2 separate regions of the Homo sapiens genome follow, and region 1 is linked to region 2. The links come from fine-mapping of genetic effects on gene expression. A gene starts in region 2. The other region holds a variant in brackets. All regions are shown on one strand. Distances are from middle to middle.

Region 1 (8,328 bases), 70 kb after region 2:
CGAGAAGAAGCTTAGATGCCATTCATGGAGTGTAAAGGGTGATTTTGTTGAGGGCTCAGAAGAGAACTGTAGGGAAAGTCTGAAGCTTCTTTGAGAATACTTAAAGTGGTCATGGTCAGAATGTTGGTAGAAATCTGGACAGTGAAGGCCATTCTGGTAAGATCTCAGACAGAAATGAAGAACAAGGTGTCAGAAACTGGAGGAATGACCATCCTAGTTATAAAGTGGCAGAGAACGTGGCTGAACGGTGTCCATGCCCAGTCCTTCCTTTGTGGAAGGAACTGGGATATCTGGCTGAAGAAATACTCAGGGTGTGGCATGTTTTCTTCTAACTGCAGAGAGTAAGATGTGAGAAGAGAAATGAATTAAAGATGGAATTTATAATTAACAAGGAAAGAATAGGGATCGTAAGGATTTTCAGCCTGCCCATTTAGGGAGTAAATAAGATGTCTTTAGGAGAACAGACCAAGTGTGTGGCCAAGCAACTTAGTATGGACAGAACGAAGCCAGAGGCTGCTCATCAGGACAGTGGGAAAATGGCCCCAGAGGCATTTCAGATTCCTGGTGCTGCCCCTCCCACCACAGGCCCAGAGTGCCAAGGCCTTTGGGAAGGAAATATGTCAAAAGAGAGGTGTAGGGTGTGGACCTTAGAGCCTGCTGGCCAGGGCCACCCCAAGTCTTGGCTGTCTGCATTCCAGTGCAGACCCCCTAAGCCACTCCAGCCTGTCTCATGTGGACCCAGGGAAGGTACAAGTCATAAGCCTTGGTGGTGTCGATTCTGCAGCCTTGCAGGAGCTGTGGGGACATGGCTTCATCCACTGGGTGTCACACAGGATGTCACAAGTCTCCAGGCCAGAGCCATGGCAGAGAGCCCACACTAGGGCAATATGTGGTAGAGCCTTGGGGATAAGGCCACCCCTGAGACCCCAGAACTGGAGAGCCTCTAGTGTTCATTGCCAGCCTGGGAGAGCTGAAGGCACGAGACTCCAACCTAAGAGAGTTGTGTGAGGTCTGAGCCCAGCAAAGCTCTAGGGGTGAGGTTCCCAAGAGCCTGAGGACCCAGCCGCACCCCACGGCGTGCAGAAGGCAGGATTTGGAGTCAAAGATGATGATTCTCAAGCCTTAGGATTTAGTAGTATTCTCCCTGTTGGACTTTGGACATGCTTTTGAGGCCTGTTATTCCTTTCCTCTTTATAATTTATCCCTTTGGAATGGAAATGTCTGTTCTATGCCTGCCCTACCATTGTATTTTGGAAGCACGTAACTTGTTTAATTTCACAGGCTCATAGTGGAGGGAAAGTTGCCTCAGGATGAATCATGCCTTGAGTCTCACCCATGTTTGATTTAGACGAGACTCTGGGCTTTGGACTTTTGAATGGGGCCATTGGGATGGAATGAGTATATTTTGTATGTGAAAAGAACATGAATTGGTGTAGGGGCAGGGATGGAATGCTACGGTTTGAATGTTTTTATCTCCCAAACTCATGTTAATATTTAATTGTCATTGTAACAGTGTTAAGAGGTGGGATCCTTAAAGGGTGATTAGGTCAGAGGGAAGATAGGCTGGAATTGGTGCTGGTATAATAAGATGAGCTTGGCCCTCTCTTGCCCTTCCACCTTCCACAGTGACACAACAAGAAGGATTGCACCAGACGCTGGCACCTTACTCTGGGACTTCCCAGCCCCCAGAACTGTGAGCCAATAAATTTCTATTCCTTATAAATTATCTGGTCTCAGGTATTCGGTTATAGCAGCAAAAACAGACTAAGAGAAGACAATGTTTGTGCCCCCCCCACCCAATTTCCTGTGTTGAAACATAATCTCCAATGTGATGGTACTTGGAGGCAGGACTTTTTAGATCATGAGGGTGCAACACTTGTGGATGGGATTCGTGCCCTTAAAAAGAGGCTGCAGCCCAGTATGGTGGCTCACGCCGTAATCCCAGCACTTACGGAAGCCGAGGCAGGCGGATCACTTCAGCCTAGGAGTTCAAAACCAGCCTGGACAACATGGCAAAACCCCATCTCTACAAAAAATATAAAAATTAGCTGGGTGTGGTGGTGCATGCCTGTGGTCCCAGCTACTTGAGAGGCTGAGGTGGGAGGATCACTTGAGCCTGAAGGTCGAAGCTGCAGTAAGTCATGACTGTACTGGTGACTCAAGGCTGGGCAACAGAGTGAGAACCTGTCTTTTTTTTTTTTTTTTTTTTTGAGATGGAGTCTTGCTCTGTCGCCCAGGCTGGAGTGCAGTGGCGCGATCTCGGCTCACTGCAAGCTCCGCCTCCTGGGTTCACGCCATTCTGCCTCAGCCTCCCGAGTAGCTGGAACTTGGTCTCGATCCTCCTGACCTTGTGATCTGCCCACCTCGGCCTCCCAAAGTGCTGGGATTAACAAGCGTGAGCCACCGCACACGGCCTTTTTTTTTTTGTATTTTTAGTAGAGACGGGATTTTACCATGTTGGCCAGGCTGGTCTTGAACTCCTGACCTCAGGTGATCTGCCCGCCTTGGCCTCCCAAAATGTTAGGGTTACAGGCGTAAGCCACCGTGCCCAGCCTTTTTCCTTCTCTTTTTATAGATACCTAATCTTGGTATGAATGGTCCTTTTTACATCTTCTATTTTTTTGCTGAGACTTTCATATTTTTACATCCATTGCAAAATGTTTGTGATTGCTTGCTCTGGCATATTTATAGTAGCTACTTTAAAGCCCTTGTCAGATAATTTCAGCATCTGTGTCTGTGTCACTTCCTCCCAAGCCTGGCGTTTGGTTGGTGAGGACTTGCAGGTTCCCCCTGCATATCGGGAAGTGTGAGTTTTTGTTCAGGGTGCATCTACCTGGGGCCATGGCATAATGTTCATCTGCAATGATTGTAAGGTGTTCAGATTTTGTAAATCCAAATAAAACTGTTTTAAAGAACACAATCCTCAGCCGGGCATGGTGGCTCATGCCTGGAATCCCAGCACTTTGGGAGGCCGAGGCGGGCGGATCACGAGGTCAGGAGATCGAGACCATCCTGGCCAACACAGTGAAACCCCGTCTCCACTAAAATAATACAAAAAAATTAGCCGGGCATGGTGGCGGGCGCCTGTAGTCCCAGCTACTCGGGAGGCTGGGGCAGGAGAATGGCATGAACCTGGTAGGCAGAGCCTGCAGTGAGCTGAGATCGCGCCACTGCACTCCAGCCTGGGCGACAGAGCAAGACTCTGTCTCAAAAAAAAAAAAAAAAAAAAAAAATCTCTCTCTCCTACATTGCTGTCTGCAAAACAATGGAGGTTATGGATGTTAGATTGCATCTCGATGTTAAACCTTTGCTAATGTACTTATGGGAATCACAAAGATTCTGTTTGTAAATACAGAAGTGAATTGTAGACATAAAATGGTTGTGCCATGTGGATAATGGCAGGCACTAGGTGACATTTATGTAGTAACTAATGACAAAAATTCATGGCTAGTGGCATATAAAATACTCTTTGCAGTAAAATATTTCCTTGATTAATGTTATAGAAGGGGGACATAACAAGGAACTCACAGTTGGTGTGGCAGCTAGCCTCAAAGACTGTCTTTCATTTGGTTTCAGCACCTCCTGTTTGGGGTTATTAGCATCTTAGAAGAGCACGGTGGCCTTGTCTGATGAAGCCGAATTGTGCTGGTCTGTTCCGAGCTGGTTTAAGTGTTCTGATGGGCAGCTGTGGATGTTGGGGTTCAGAGCTTAGTCATCGTTGCCTGAAATGGCACTAGACTCTACAATTTCTGCCTTGGAGAACACTCAGTTCTTACTTGTGATTTCTGGTAGAACAAGCTTTATTTTTCTAGCCTAGTAATGATCTTGAAGCAGAGGAATCCCAGTGCCTTTTAAGAATTGTGTTGGCCGGTGCGGTGGCTCACGCCTGTAATCCCAGCACTTCTGGAGGCCGAGGCTGGAAGATTACTTGAGCCCAGGAGTTTGAGACCAGCCTGGGCAACATAGACCTCATTTCTACAAAAATTAAAAAATAATAAAAATTTGTTGTGTGGTTTTTTAAAAAAGCTACTAATTGTTTTTGGGAAATAGAATTTATGGGTCTTTACCTTTGCACATTGAATCTTTTATTTTTTATTTTTATTTTTTAGAAACAGGGTCTCTGTCACCCAGGCTGGAGTGCAGCGGCCCGGTGATTGCTCCCTGCAGCCGTGGCCTCCCAGGGAACTAGGGTTTCAGGTGTGAGCCGCGGTGCCCAGCTGCAAGTTGAAATGTTGTGGTTCTTCGTGTGTCAAGCAATTTTGGGCTATATTCTAGACATTTTGAATATGACTTTATGAGATCTGGGTCAT[G/A]TTTGAATCCTGTGGGAAATGTTGAAGTCTGGTTAGCAGGCACTTGGTCCTGTGAAGGTTGGGCCCACATTGTTCCTGCCCGCATGAGTATCTTTGGTTAGCAGGCACTTGGTCCTGGGATGGTCAGGCCCACACTGCTCCCACCTGCGTGGGTGTCTTTGGTTAGCAGGCACTTGGTCCTGTGAGGGTTGGGCCCACACTGCTCCCACCTGCGTGGACTCCTGTCTTCAGAGCTGCTGGTCTTTGGTCTGGGACCCAAGGCTGGTCTGCAGTTCCCCACGTCCATGGTGTGATCATTAGACCCATGTGTCTGCATGTGAGCTGAGCCCGGCATCCACAGCCACCCCATGTGGGTGCTTCCCAAGCTCCCCACGCTGGGTTTGGTTGCTGGGCTCACTCACTGTCAGTTCAGACAGTGACATGCCCTTGACTGGGCCGCGTTGGAGTCTATGTGGCAGGAGGACAGGGGAGGAAAGCTAATGGGGGTGGTCCCACCCTCAATACAGCCGCACTGAGCTGTGAGGGACTTTCTGGCCCCAAGTTTGGCTCTGATGGGTTCCTGTAGCCACCACTCCCACTGCCATCAGGGTCACAAAAGAATGGAGAAGAGGGTAAACCCAGGGCATTGCCTCACTGACCCTGCGCATCGGCGTGGGTTCCTTTCCCTGGCCCTTAGGGCTGCTCTGGGCTTTCTGCCTGGCCCCAGCACTCACGTCCGGTGTTGCGGCTGCGTGGAGTTCAGGTCATGGATGTTAGGTCAAGCACCAGTTCTGCGAAACTTGGGATCTTGCTGCTGCTCCCTGACCCAGCTCTCTGGCAGCTGCTCCAGGCCCCGTGCACAAGTTTCATAGCTGCAGTTTCACAGAGTTCACTCTGTCGCCCAGGCTGGAGTGCAGTGGCGCAATCTCAGCTCATTCCCGGGTTCAATGAATTCTCCTGCCTCAGTCCCCTGAGTAGCTGGGATTAGAGGTGTGTGCCACCACGCTCGGCTAATTTTTTTTTTTTTTTTTTTTAAGTACAAAAGGGGTTTCACCGTGTTGGCCAGGCTGGTCTTGATCTCCTGACCTCAAGTGATCCGCCTCGGCCTCCCAAAGTGCTAGGATTACAGGCATGAACCACCACGCCCGGCCTGACCTCAGCATATGTTTTCTGAGGACTTCTGTTCTTTTGCTAATTCAGTCACTTTCTCTTTAAACACTGGGTCTCCACCCCTGCCCCGTAGATGGGGTGGGGGCATGCATGCCGCTCCATTCCCCTCCCAGGGCTGTGTTTCTTTCGTCTCCTCTGTGCCATCTTCTGCTGCCTGGTCCTCTCGTCGAGTCTGTCTGGTCCAGCACTTTCCACATATCAAGATTTTTTTTTTTTTCTTTTCCTTTTTTGAGACAGAGTCTTGTTCTGTCGCCCAGGCTGGAGTGCAGTGGTGCAATCTCGGCTCACTGCAAGCTCCGCCTCCCAGGTTCACGCCATTCTCCTACCTCAGTCTCTCGAGTAGCTGAGACTACAGGCGTCCGCCACCGCGCCCGGCTAATTTTTTGTATTTTTAGTAGAGACAGGGTTTCACCTTGTTAGCCAGGATGGCCTCGATCTGACCTCGTGATCTGCCCACCTCGGCCTCCCAAAGTACTGGGATTACAGGCGTGAGCCACCGCGCCCGGCCTACGTATCAAGCTTTTGATGCAGTCACTCGCCCTGTCATTTTCCAGTGTCTAATTGGCTCCCTTTTTATTTTGAAATGTCCAAGTCCTCTTGATTTCTGTCCCCACTTTTGTTTTATGGTGCATAGGAATGTTTTTGTTAGTCTCCTTGAATGTGAACGTAGGTAAGTCCTTTTCAGGAAATTGCTCAATTCTTTGGAGCCTGCCCGTGGTGTGCTTGCATTTACAGAATCTGTCAGCTCCCTTCTGAGGGTGTTAGTCTCAGGGCAGCTTATCTTGTCTGGGGGTCTTTGGTGTGTCTTCCTTCCTTTCCTTGTTCTCGCCCACGTTGGGGGTTTTATTATGAACTGCAGTGGTCCCCAGGGCTTCCCAGCTGGAGACCAGGAGTTGGCAGGGCAGAGGCTCCGTCCCTCTGGGTGGCGCAGCCTCTCTCGGTGGTGCTGTCCCTGATCCCGTCGGTGCTCGAGCTCAGCCCCAGGGTCTCTACCTGCGGCCCACGTGGCTCAGGGGAACCATCACCTCGACACTCACTCGTCTCCTCTGCGTCCTTTCTCTGTACGGGGTTGCTTGCTGCCATGTTTGGAGCCACAAGCTCTGTGTGCTTCCTATAATGGGCAGCTGACCCGAGTGCCAGGCTCTACTCCTGCCATCTTCCTTGTCACCACCATCGCCCCGGGCCCCCGAGCTCCCGGTGCAGTTCCAACAAAGCCTGTGGGGTCCAGCTGGAGCTCCACCTCTGCTCCCACTTCTGGGCCCCTGGTCCCATCCTCGCCGGCCTGAACTGACTGTGGAGACCGCCCTGGCACTGGGAGCGACACGGCCTGCCGACTCTGGACCCAGCAGCCGAGGGACTCCCTCAAGGACGGGACTGTGGGGGGCCGCCCTGGCACTGGGAGTGACGCAGCCTGCCAACTCTGGACCCAGCAGCCGAGGAACTCCCTTAAGGATGGGACTGACTGTGGGGGCTGCCCTGGCACTGGGAGCGACGCAGCCTGCCGACTCTGGACCCAGCAGCTGAGGAACTCCCTCAAGGACGGGACTGACTGGGGGGGCTGCCCTGGCACTGGGAGTGACGTGGCCTACTGACCCTGGACCCAGACGGCAGGCCCTGCATGCTGCCAGCCCCGGCACATGTGCCAGGCATCTCCCTGGAGGTCATGGAGGACAGGGCAGTGTGACAAAGTCTGGCACCAGCACATGACCTCAGACGCACATGTCACCTGTCAGCAGTGACTGCAACATTCACTCCAGTAGGACCACTGTGCCAGCAATAACAGCGTCACCCGTCAGCAGTGACCATGAGGTCCACTCCACTGTGCCAGCAGTGCCCACAGTCTCCCTCCCTGCAGACAGAGACTGGACAACAATGTGCTGTTGCCAACTGTTTATTCAGGGCCCTGAACGGGTGGTGCGTGGACATGCAACACACTCGGGCCCACAGCAGCGTGACCGGCCGCTCCCAAGCCCCGGGCGCACAACCACAGCCAGGAGCAGCCCCTGCCACCACTGGGCCACCGTCCAGGGCCCCACAGGACCAGCCGAAGGTGCCCCGGGCCGAGGCCAGCTGGGTCAGGTGTACCCCTAGCCTGGGGTTGAGTGAGGAGCGGCACCCCCAGTATCCTGTGTACCCCAAGTTGCCCAGGAGGCCGAGGGGGCCTTGGGCTCCATCTGCACTGGCCACCCCGTGCCAAGCATCACAGCTGCGTGAGCAGGTTTGTGTGTGAGCGTGTGGCGGGGCCTGGTTGTCCCCTTCCTAAGGCGTAACTGCTATAAGCATCTCCACCTCTCCCGCTCGGGAAAAAGCCACAGAGCCTGGCGATGTCCTCAAGGGGTCCCGGTGGCTCCAGTGCACCCAGCACACCTCAGCGCCTCTGGCTGGCAAGCCAGGAGAAGAAGGTGCGAGGCCGTGGGCGAGGTGCCTGGAGGACGCGCATGGTGCGTGGGGAGCGCCAGGCTTTGATGGTGGCGTCGTCGCTGGCCGTGAGCAGCAGCTCCTGCTCCTGGGGACTGAAGACCACTGAGTTGACCACATCCTCGTGCCGCAGCCTGGCCAGACAGATGTTGTAGTGGCGGTCCCAGATGTAGCCGTGCCGGTCCTCCGCCCCGCTGCAGAACAGCGCCTGGGTGAGCCGGCCGCCCGCCCGCTGCTGCCCACACCCGCCCTGCACCACGCCGCGCCCTGCACCTGGCCACGAAGTCCCTGCTGACGTCCAGGAAGATGAAGAAGCACTCGTCGTTGGGCGTGTAGGCGCGGTGCGCACGCAGAGCCCGCCTCACCTCCCGCATGGTCTTGAGGTCGAACACCAGCAGGTCAATCTCCTCCGCGATTGGTGGCGGCTGCATGGGGTCGGCCACCACCGCAC
Region 2 (8,304 bases):
CACCCTCCCCGTGCTATCTGAACACCGGCCATCCCCCTCCCCAAACCCACAACCCCAGGAGTGAGAGCCCCGGCGCAGCCTCACCGTGGCCAGGTCCTTCTGCGTAAGCCCCTTGCTCTGCCGACCTTGCTGGATCACCTTGCCCACCTCCAGGGTCACCCTGTCATGGTGCAGCTCCTCTGTCTCCCGGTCCAGCTTGGCCGTGTTCTTGGTAATAGAATGTTGTTTGTTCTGGCCAGCAGCCCCTGGAGTCGGTGTGAGGCAAAAGCAGAGGAGAGGATTTGGAATTAACCTGAAGAAAAACCATTTCAAAGCGGTAACCAGACCCCAGAGGCTGCCTGAACTCAAGGGGACATGGGAACCCAGGCTGTCCCAAGTTCACACACCTCAGGTCGTGGACTTCCAGAGTTTTCTCTCAGTTATGAGGACAGGCAGCTGTACTCATGCCAACCAGAGCTGCTCTGGGAAGATGGCTGCCTCCCAGGGCTCCGGCCAGCACCGGTGCAGGCAGGCACTCAGCTGACAACGTCCCCGGGGGCGCCGCACACACCACACCCACCAGCACATGGACCCCACAGCACAGCCTCATGTTGCAAGCGGAAACACAAGTACCTACATTTCTTGGAAGTCTCCACATCTTCTCCTCGTCTCTGTGCCGCTAAGATAGCCTAGAAAATTAGAAAACATCAGTGGATCAAAATTAGCTTTGACAGTATCCAGCACACACCAATTCAGGCCTGCTGTTAGCCAGTTAGCACACTGCTAAGGACTAGTGGTGCCCAAGGACTGATATGCAGTCCTGGGTTCAGTTACCTAAGCTCAACTAGGCACCATGGCTTATGCCTGTAATCCCAGCACTTTGGGAAACCGAAGTAGCAGGATCACTTGAGGCCACGAGTTCGAGACCAGCCTGGGCAACACAGCAAGATCCTGTCTCTACAAACAATAAAACACAACAAAACCCCAAACTCATTATACAAAAGCCTCTACAATCAGATGTCTAAGAAAGTCACAGTTAACTGCTAAGAGAACACCACTTCCTTTGCTGTTGAGAAAGACACACTAGGGATTTTTTTTTTTTTTTTTTAGAGTTGAGGTCTTGCTATGTTGCCCAGGCTGGTCTGGAACTCCTGGGCTCAAGTGAGCCTCTGGCCTCAGCCTCCCTCCTGAATAGCTGGTATGCGTTAGTGGATTCTTTTTGAGAAATCATATTTAGCACAGATTTACTTTTCTGCTGGACTCTACTGCAAAAGTAGGAAGGAACACCAAATACTGGCCTGGTGTGGCCTTCCTCCCTGAATCTGGTTCCTAGTAACACAGAGATGACACATCTCATGGAAGCCTGCAGGCTCTCCAGAAACATCACCAATAACAGTGATGCCATCTCATCTACAGTCACTGAATATTAATATAATGTATTTATTAACTTTTTTTTTTTGAGACAGAGTCTCACTCTGTTGCCCAGGCTGGAATGCAGTGACACGATCTCGGCTCACTGCAACCTTCGCCCTCCGAGTTCAAGCAATTCTCCTGCCTCAGCCTCCCGAGTAGCTGGGATTACAGGCTCCTGCCACCGTGCCTGGCTAATTTTTTGTATTTTTAGTAGAGACGGGGTTTCACCATCTTGGCCAGGCTGGTCTTGAACTCCTGACCTCATGATCCACCTGCCTTGGCCTCCCAGAGTGCTGGGATTACAGGCGTGAGCCACCGCGCCCGGCCAACATTTCTACCACTTCAGAGGAGTGACTTGTGGAGCATCCTAAGTGTGATCTGCTCACAGATGCTGCCACGCAATTATTCCCATGACTCCTAGCTTGTGGCCATTAAGTTTCCTTTAAAAGAAAAGGAGAGTGAATTTGGTTTTGACTGTGCAACCAGTAAGGGTAGGGCAGACCAATGAATCCCTGTCACCAGAGCCCCAGCGCATCCTGGCCCAACTGGCCTCAAAGGCTTCAGCCCTAGGCCACCTGAGGGTACGAATGAGGCAGAGGCGGTGACTAAACTGTCCTCCCTATTACATCAGACTCACAACTGACCCTCGGATCCATCAGCCACATTGGTAATCTCCTTCCACAAGTACTGTTCAGGGCACGCCCATCTTCCACCTGTGCAACAGGGTCCACCTGCTCATGGGGTCCCCTGAAGCAGGCACTCTCTACAGCCTGTGATGCACCCAGGCAGGCTCCCTGGGCAGTATCTGACCAGCGGAGACCAGTAGAACCAAGCAGGTCCCAGGCAGAGAGAAAACTCTCAGGGAGGAGCCTACCCCCTGTCCCCAGCTCCCACTCAGGTCACTAACCTCTGCCCCGTCACCCAGTCTCCCGCCCCAGGCCCTCAACTGCTGTCCAATGGCCCCCAGCCCTATCCCAACCCCAATTCCCCACCTTCATCGCTGGTTCCTGCTGCTTGCCCCAGTCCCCACCCCTGTCCTAAGCCCTGTACCCCACTCTACCCTGTTCTTCCAAGCCCTGTCCCCATCTCCATCCCTGCCCCCGTTCCCAGTGCCCACCCTGGTTCTCTGTCCCCTATCCTCACACAAGGCCCCCAGCCTTGTCCCCGTCCCCGTCCCCACCTCCTGCCTCTGTCCTCACACCTGTCCCCACCAACAGTCCCTGCCCCTATCCCCTCCCCGCCCCACCCTGGCACTGGTCCCGGCCCTATCGCCTGCCCCTTGCCCCGTCCGGTTCCCTGCTCCTCTCCTCCTCCAGTCGCCCGCCCCCTGCCTCCTGGGTCCGTCCATCCCCTCCTGGGTCCGCCCCCCACCTTCCCACCCCTGTCCTGGCCCGGTCCTCCTACCCCTGCGATTCGCCCCGCCCTTCGAACCCCGTCCTGCCCCCGGCACCCCAGCCTTGTCCCCGTCCCCTGCGCCCTGTCCCAGGCCCCGCCTGCCCTTCCCCGAGCCCCCTGCCCCACGGTCCGTGGCCCCGGCCCAGCGTCCGCCCCGCCCGGCCCGGCCGCTCCTCAGTCAGCAAAGCACCTGCTTGGATTTGGCCTGGGCGGCCGTAGGGCCCTTCTTGCGCAGCACCGTCACCGTGTCCCAGTCGCTCTCGGCCATGGCGGGCGAAGACGAGCGTCCGTCCGGCGGCTCAGCGGCAGCTGCTAGAGACCTGGCGCGGCGACGCTACGTCCCCTCGGCACCTCCCCGCTTTCGGCGTCCCATTGGCTGGCTGCACGCGGGGGGCGGGCACTTCCCGTGCTCGGGGCCATTCGGCGTTCGGCTCGTCTGAGGGACGTCGTGGCCGGGCGCCGGCGACGTAGGGAAGGCGACGTCGGGGCCTGGCCTGGCCTGGCGAGGCGCGGTAGCCGCTGGGGCTGCAGGTCGGGAGGACCCCGGAGCCCGGGCCCCGCGGCCTCCGAGCACACGCGGGCGGCGGCTGCGCCCCGACGCGCAGCCCCCGTGCCTCCCCGGGCCCCGCACCCCGGCCGGGCCACGCGGGCGGAGGGGGCGCGGGGTCTCCGCTCTAGCCGTGCGGCCGCCCCCCTTTGTTTTGCCGCCTGCGCGGCTGGGACCTGCGCTCGAGGACCAGGGCCGTGGGGCCCGAAACGCAGCGTGGGGTGGGACACTTTTTTTTTTTTAACTTTTATTTTTTGAGATGGAGTCTTGCTCTATCGCCCAGGCTGGGTGCCGTGGCGCGATCTCGGCTCACTCCGTCTCCCGGGTTCATGCCATTCTCCTGCCTCAGCCTCCCGAGTACCTGGGACTACAGGCGCCAGCCACCACGCCCGGCTAATTTATTTATTTTATTTTATTTTATTTTTAGTAGAGACGGGCCAGGATGGTCTCGATCTCCTGATCTCGTGATCCGCAGGTGGGACTCTTTAAGAAAAAGAACGCAAGCCGGGCACGGTGGTTCACGCCTGTAGTCCCAGAACTTTGGGAGGCCGAGGCGGGCGTATCACCTGAGGTCGGGAGTTCGAGACCAGCCTGACCAACATGGAGAAACCCCGTCTCTACTAAAAATACAAAATTAGCCGGACGTGGTGGCGGGCACCTGTAATCTCAGCTACTCGGGGAGGCTGAGGCAGAAGAATCAGTTGAACCCGGGAGGCGGAGGTTGCGGTGAGCCGAGATCGCGCTATTGCACTCCAGCCTGGGCAACAAGAATGAAACTGCGTTTCAAAAAAAAAGAAAAAGAATGGAAAACTGTGAAAACATCGGTTGCAAAAATGAATGGTTTTGCATGATGTTTATTTTCTGTAATGTATAAAGTGTATATGTTATATGACAATAATTCTGTAATACCCTATTTTCCAGCCGTTTTGTATAATGAGAAAGGTCATTATACATTATCATTGAACAACTTTTTTAGGATTTTTATTTTTATAGACAGGGTCTCACTCTGTGGCCCACGCTGGAGCACAACATTGAGATCTCAGCTCACTGCAGCCTCGACGTCCTGCGCTCAAGCGATGGGACTATAGGCGCGGCCCCCACGCCTGGCTAATTTTTGTATTTTGTGGGGTAGAGATGGGGTCTCCGTGCCGCCCTGGCTCGTCGGTCTGGAACTCCTGAGCTCGCGTGATCCTCCCGCCTCGGCCTCCCAAAGCCTGGGATTACAGGCTTGAGCCACCGCAGGCCCTAATCATAGTATTGACTTCCGGGCTTTGAATAGATGCTCCACAAACAAGGAACCTGATAAATGCAGTCTCCATCCAAAAAGAAAACATACATAAATGCTGTATTAAATTGGAAATGCTGCATTAGCAAATGCACTCCGCGGAGGAGACAACTGTAATTCTAACCAGGCAGTGGGAAGTTGAGTCTTCTGCTTACCGTTTTTCACACCGGATGATTGGAAGAACCTTGGGGACACACTGATGGCTCCGTCCATACAAACCTTGCTTCTCTGTTTCCCGCCGACTTCCAGCACCAAGCTCCGTTCGGCTAAGGACTCAACAGCCTCAGCCGGCCAGCAAGGATGTGCTTCCACTGAATGAAAATAATCTCTTGTGGCCGGGCGCAGTGGCTCACTTCTGTAATCCCAGCACTTTGGAAGGCCGAGGCGGATGGATCACGAGGTTGAGAGATCGAGATCATCCTGGCCAACACGGTGAAACCCTGTCTCTATTAAAAATACAAAAATCAGCTGGGCATGGTGGTGCGTGCCTGTAGTCCCAGCTACTCAGGAGGCTGAGGCAGGAGAATTGCTTGAACCGGGAGGCGGAGGTTGCAGTGAGTCGACGACACCGCACCATTGCACTCCAGCCTAGGGACAGAGCAAGACTCTGCTGTCTCAGAAAAACAAAAAAAAGAAAGAAAGAAAAAGAAAATATCCCATAAACTCTGACTGGATGTATCTCCACTCAAGTCCCCCTTTGTTGTGTGCCAAAAATGCTTATCGTCACTCCAGTGCCACCAGCCCCCAGGAAGATTGTGATGAAGGTGGAGTTGGCCTGGAAAGAGGCAGCCTTGTTAACACTGCAGTTCAGGCCTCCTAACATGACAAACTTAACCAACACCTGATCTCATGAACGCATTGGGAGGCCCTTTTCAGAGCCTGGGAGACCCATGCAAGTGGGGCTCAGCTAGCTCCGTAGTGAGCCTGGGCTGAGAGAGAGGGGACAGCTACATCTAGCTGTCCTCTGCAGGTGTCCACCAAGACAGCCGTTGTCCCATCTGGCCCTCCATCGGGAGTCCAGGCCTGATGCCACAAGTCACTTGTGCCCTGTCCTTGGCACTCCCTGCACCAAGGCATGATGGATACAGGTGTCTGTGTGAGGCTGTCCTCACTGCCCACTCCGTCCCACTCCATCCCACTCCGTCCGTCCCACTCCGGGGTCGTTTGTTTGCACTCCCTCCTATTCCTGGATTCTTCCGACTTCGGGCCCAGAGGAAAGCAGCTGATACAAAGAAGCAGCTTTGGGGGGTCTGGTGAGCCTCTCGTATCTCACTGGAGATGTTGCACCAGTCTGTCTACCAGTTATCCATTTAGCTTCATGCATGGAGAAAAGACAATTCCAAAGACTTCTGGAGAAAAAAAGTCTCTTCATTTCCATCTGCAGATCTTAGTGTCTCTCTGGCATAATTTCCCTCCAGCCTTTCTTCGGTCCTTTTAGTACCATCTGCTGTAGTTTCATCTTTCATTTAACTGAAAATGTCTCTATTTTGCCCTTGTGTTTGAAGGATACACTATTGTATAAACGTCATCCCATTGTCTTCCAACTTCCATCCTTGCCAGTGAGAATCAGTGATCAGTCATTTGTGTCCTGGTTCCCCAGCAGGTTATGTGACAATGTGGCATGTCCTCTGGCTCTTTCAAGACTATCCCTGTCTTCAGTTTTCTTTTTCTTTTCTTTTTCTTTTTTTTTTCTTTTTTTTTTTTTTTTGAGACAGGGCCTCACTCTGTTGCCCAGGCTGGAGTGCAGTGGCACAATCATGGCTCACTGCAGCCTCAACCTCCTGGGCTCAAGTGATCCTCCCACCTCAGCCTCCCAAAATACTGGAATTACAGGCATGTTCCAACACCCCCAGCCTGATCTTCAGTTTTCTTAGCATGTGCCTAAGCATATTTTCCTTTGTATTTACCTTGCTTGGGTTCACTGAGCTGCTTTTTTATTTTATTTTTTTTTGAGATGGAATCTTGCTGTGTCACCCAGGCTGGAGTGCAGTGGCACGATCTTGGCTTGCTACAACCTCCACCTCCTGGGTTCATGCCCAGCTAATTTTCTTTTCTTTTTTTTTTTTGAGATGGAGTTTCGCTCTTGTCATCCAGACTGGAGTGCAGTGACATGATCTAGGCTCACTGCAACCTCTGCCTCCCAGGTTCAAGTGATTTTCCTGCCTCAGCCTCCTGAATAGCTGGGATTACAGGCACCTGCCACCACGCCTGACTAATTTTTTGTGTTTTTAGTAGAGACGGGTTTCATCATGTTGGCCAGGCTGGTCTCAAACTTTTGACCTCAGGTGATCCGCCCGCCTCGGCCTCCCAAAGTGTTGGGACTACAGGCGTGAGCCACCACATCTGGCCCACTGAGCTTCTTAGGACTATATAGTACCACACATTCACCATGTCGGAAACATTTTCCTACTATTTATTTATTTAGAGACAAGGTCTCACTGTGGCATCCAGGCTGGAATGCAGTGGCGTGATCACAGCTCACAGCAGGCCCAACCTCCCAGGCTTAAGCGATCCTCCCACCTCAGCCTCCCACAATGCAGCACTTTGGGAGGCCGAGGTGGGAAATCGCTTAAGGCCAGGAGTTCGAGACCAGCCTGGGCAACATGGTAAAACCCTGTCTCTACAAAAACATACAAACAATTAGCTGGGTGTGGTGATGTGTGCCTGTGGTCCCAGCTACTCAGGAAGCTGCAGTAGGAGGATCACTTGAACCTGGAAGGTCAAGCCTATGGTGAACCATGATCATGCCATCGCACTCCAGCCTGGACAACAGTAAGACCCTGTCTCAGTAAATAAATAAATAATAAAAGTCTCACAGGACAGCTTGGATTTTTAAAAAATCAGTGGTCACCCCCTGTCCCTCTGCCCACCATGTTCCCAATCCCCAGAGGTTACTGCTTCCAAGTTTCACAGCTGCTTTGTACTTTTGGGTGTTCACTTCCACATGTTTAAGTGACATGCTTACTCCGCTCTCACTATGTCTTCTTTTTTCTGTTTTTGAGACGGGGTCTCACACTGTCGCCTGGGATGGAATGCGGTGGCGCGATCTTGTCTCACTGCAACCTCCGCCTCCCAGGTTCAAGCAATTCTCCTGCCTCAGCCTCCCAAGTAGCCAGGACTACAGGCACATGCCACCAAGCCCAGCTAATTTTTGTATTGTTAGTAGAGACGGGGTTTCACCATATTGCCCAGGATGGTCTTGAACTCTTGACCTCATGATCTGCCTGATTAGGCCTCCCAAAGTTCTGGGATTACAGGTGTGCCCAGCCAATATCTCAGTTTTCATAAGTAATCTAGGTAATCTGTTAAAAATAAGTATATTAGTACACACAATGCCAATGTGCCCTAAATACGTAAATAAATAAATAAATACATTACGTAAATGTAAATCTGATAAATTCGTTATTTTTTTGCGACAGAGTCTCACTCCATCTGTTGCCCAAGCTTGAGTGCATTGGCACAATGTCAGCTCACTACAACCTCCACCTCCTGGGTTCAAGCGATTCTCCTGCCTCAGCCTCCCGAGTAGCTGGGACTACAGGTGCACGCCACCACACCTGGCTAAATTTTGTATTTTTAGTAGAGATGGTGTTTCACCATGTCGGCCAGGCTGGTCTCGAACTCCTGACCTCAGGTAATCCACCACCTCAGCCTCCCAAAGTGCTGTGATTACAGGTGTGAGCCA

The links.
Region 1: its variant is fine-mapped to the expression of EDF1 in whole blood (INTERVAL, PIP 0.96).

Annotation. Positions count from the first base shown.
Region 1 is chr9:136,933,101-136,941,428 of GRCh38, forward strand. FBXW5 (F-box and WD repeat domain containing 5) reads right to left here. Exons shown (of 9, transcript NM_018998.4): 8 at 8,151-8,328; 9 at 7,335-8,071. The coding sequence ends at 7,828. Among named protein-coding and RNA genes, the nearest start is that of FBXW5, 7.5 kb to the right of the region's middle. RefSeq lists enhancers at 4,344-4,957, 4,958-5,570. The variant G/A (reference allele first, on the strand shown) is at 4,311.
Region 2 is chr9:136,863,204-136,871,507 of GRCh38, forward strand. It overlaps EDF1 (endothelial differentiation related factor 1), which reads right to left and starts at 3,105. Exons shown (of 5, transcript NM_003792.4): 1 at 2,978-3,105; 2 at 617-668; 3 at 85-245. The coding sequence starts at 3,055. RefSeq lists silencers at 2,807-2,996, 3,097-3,406.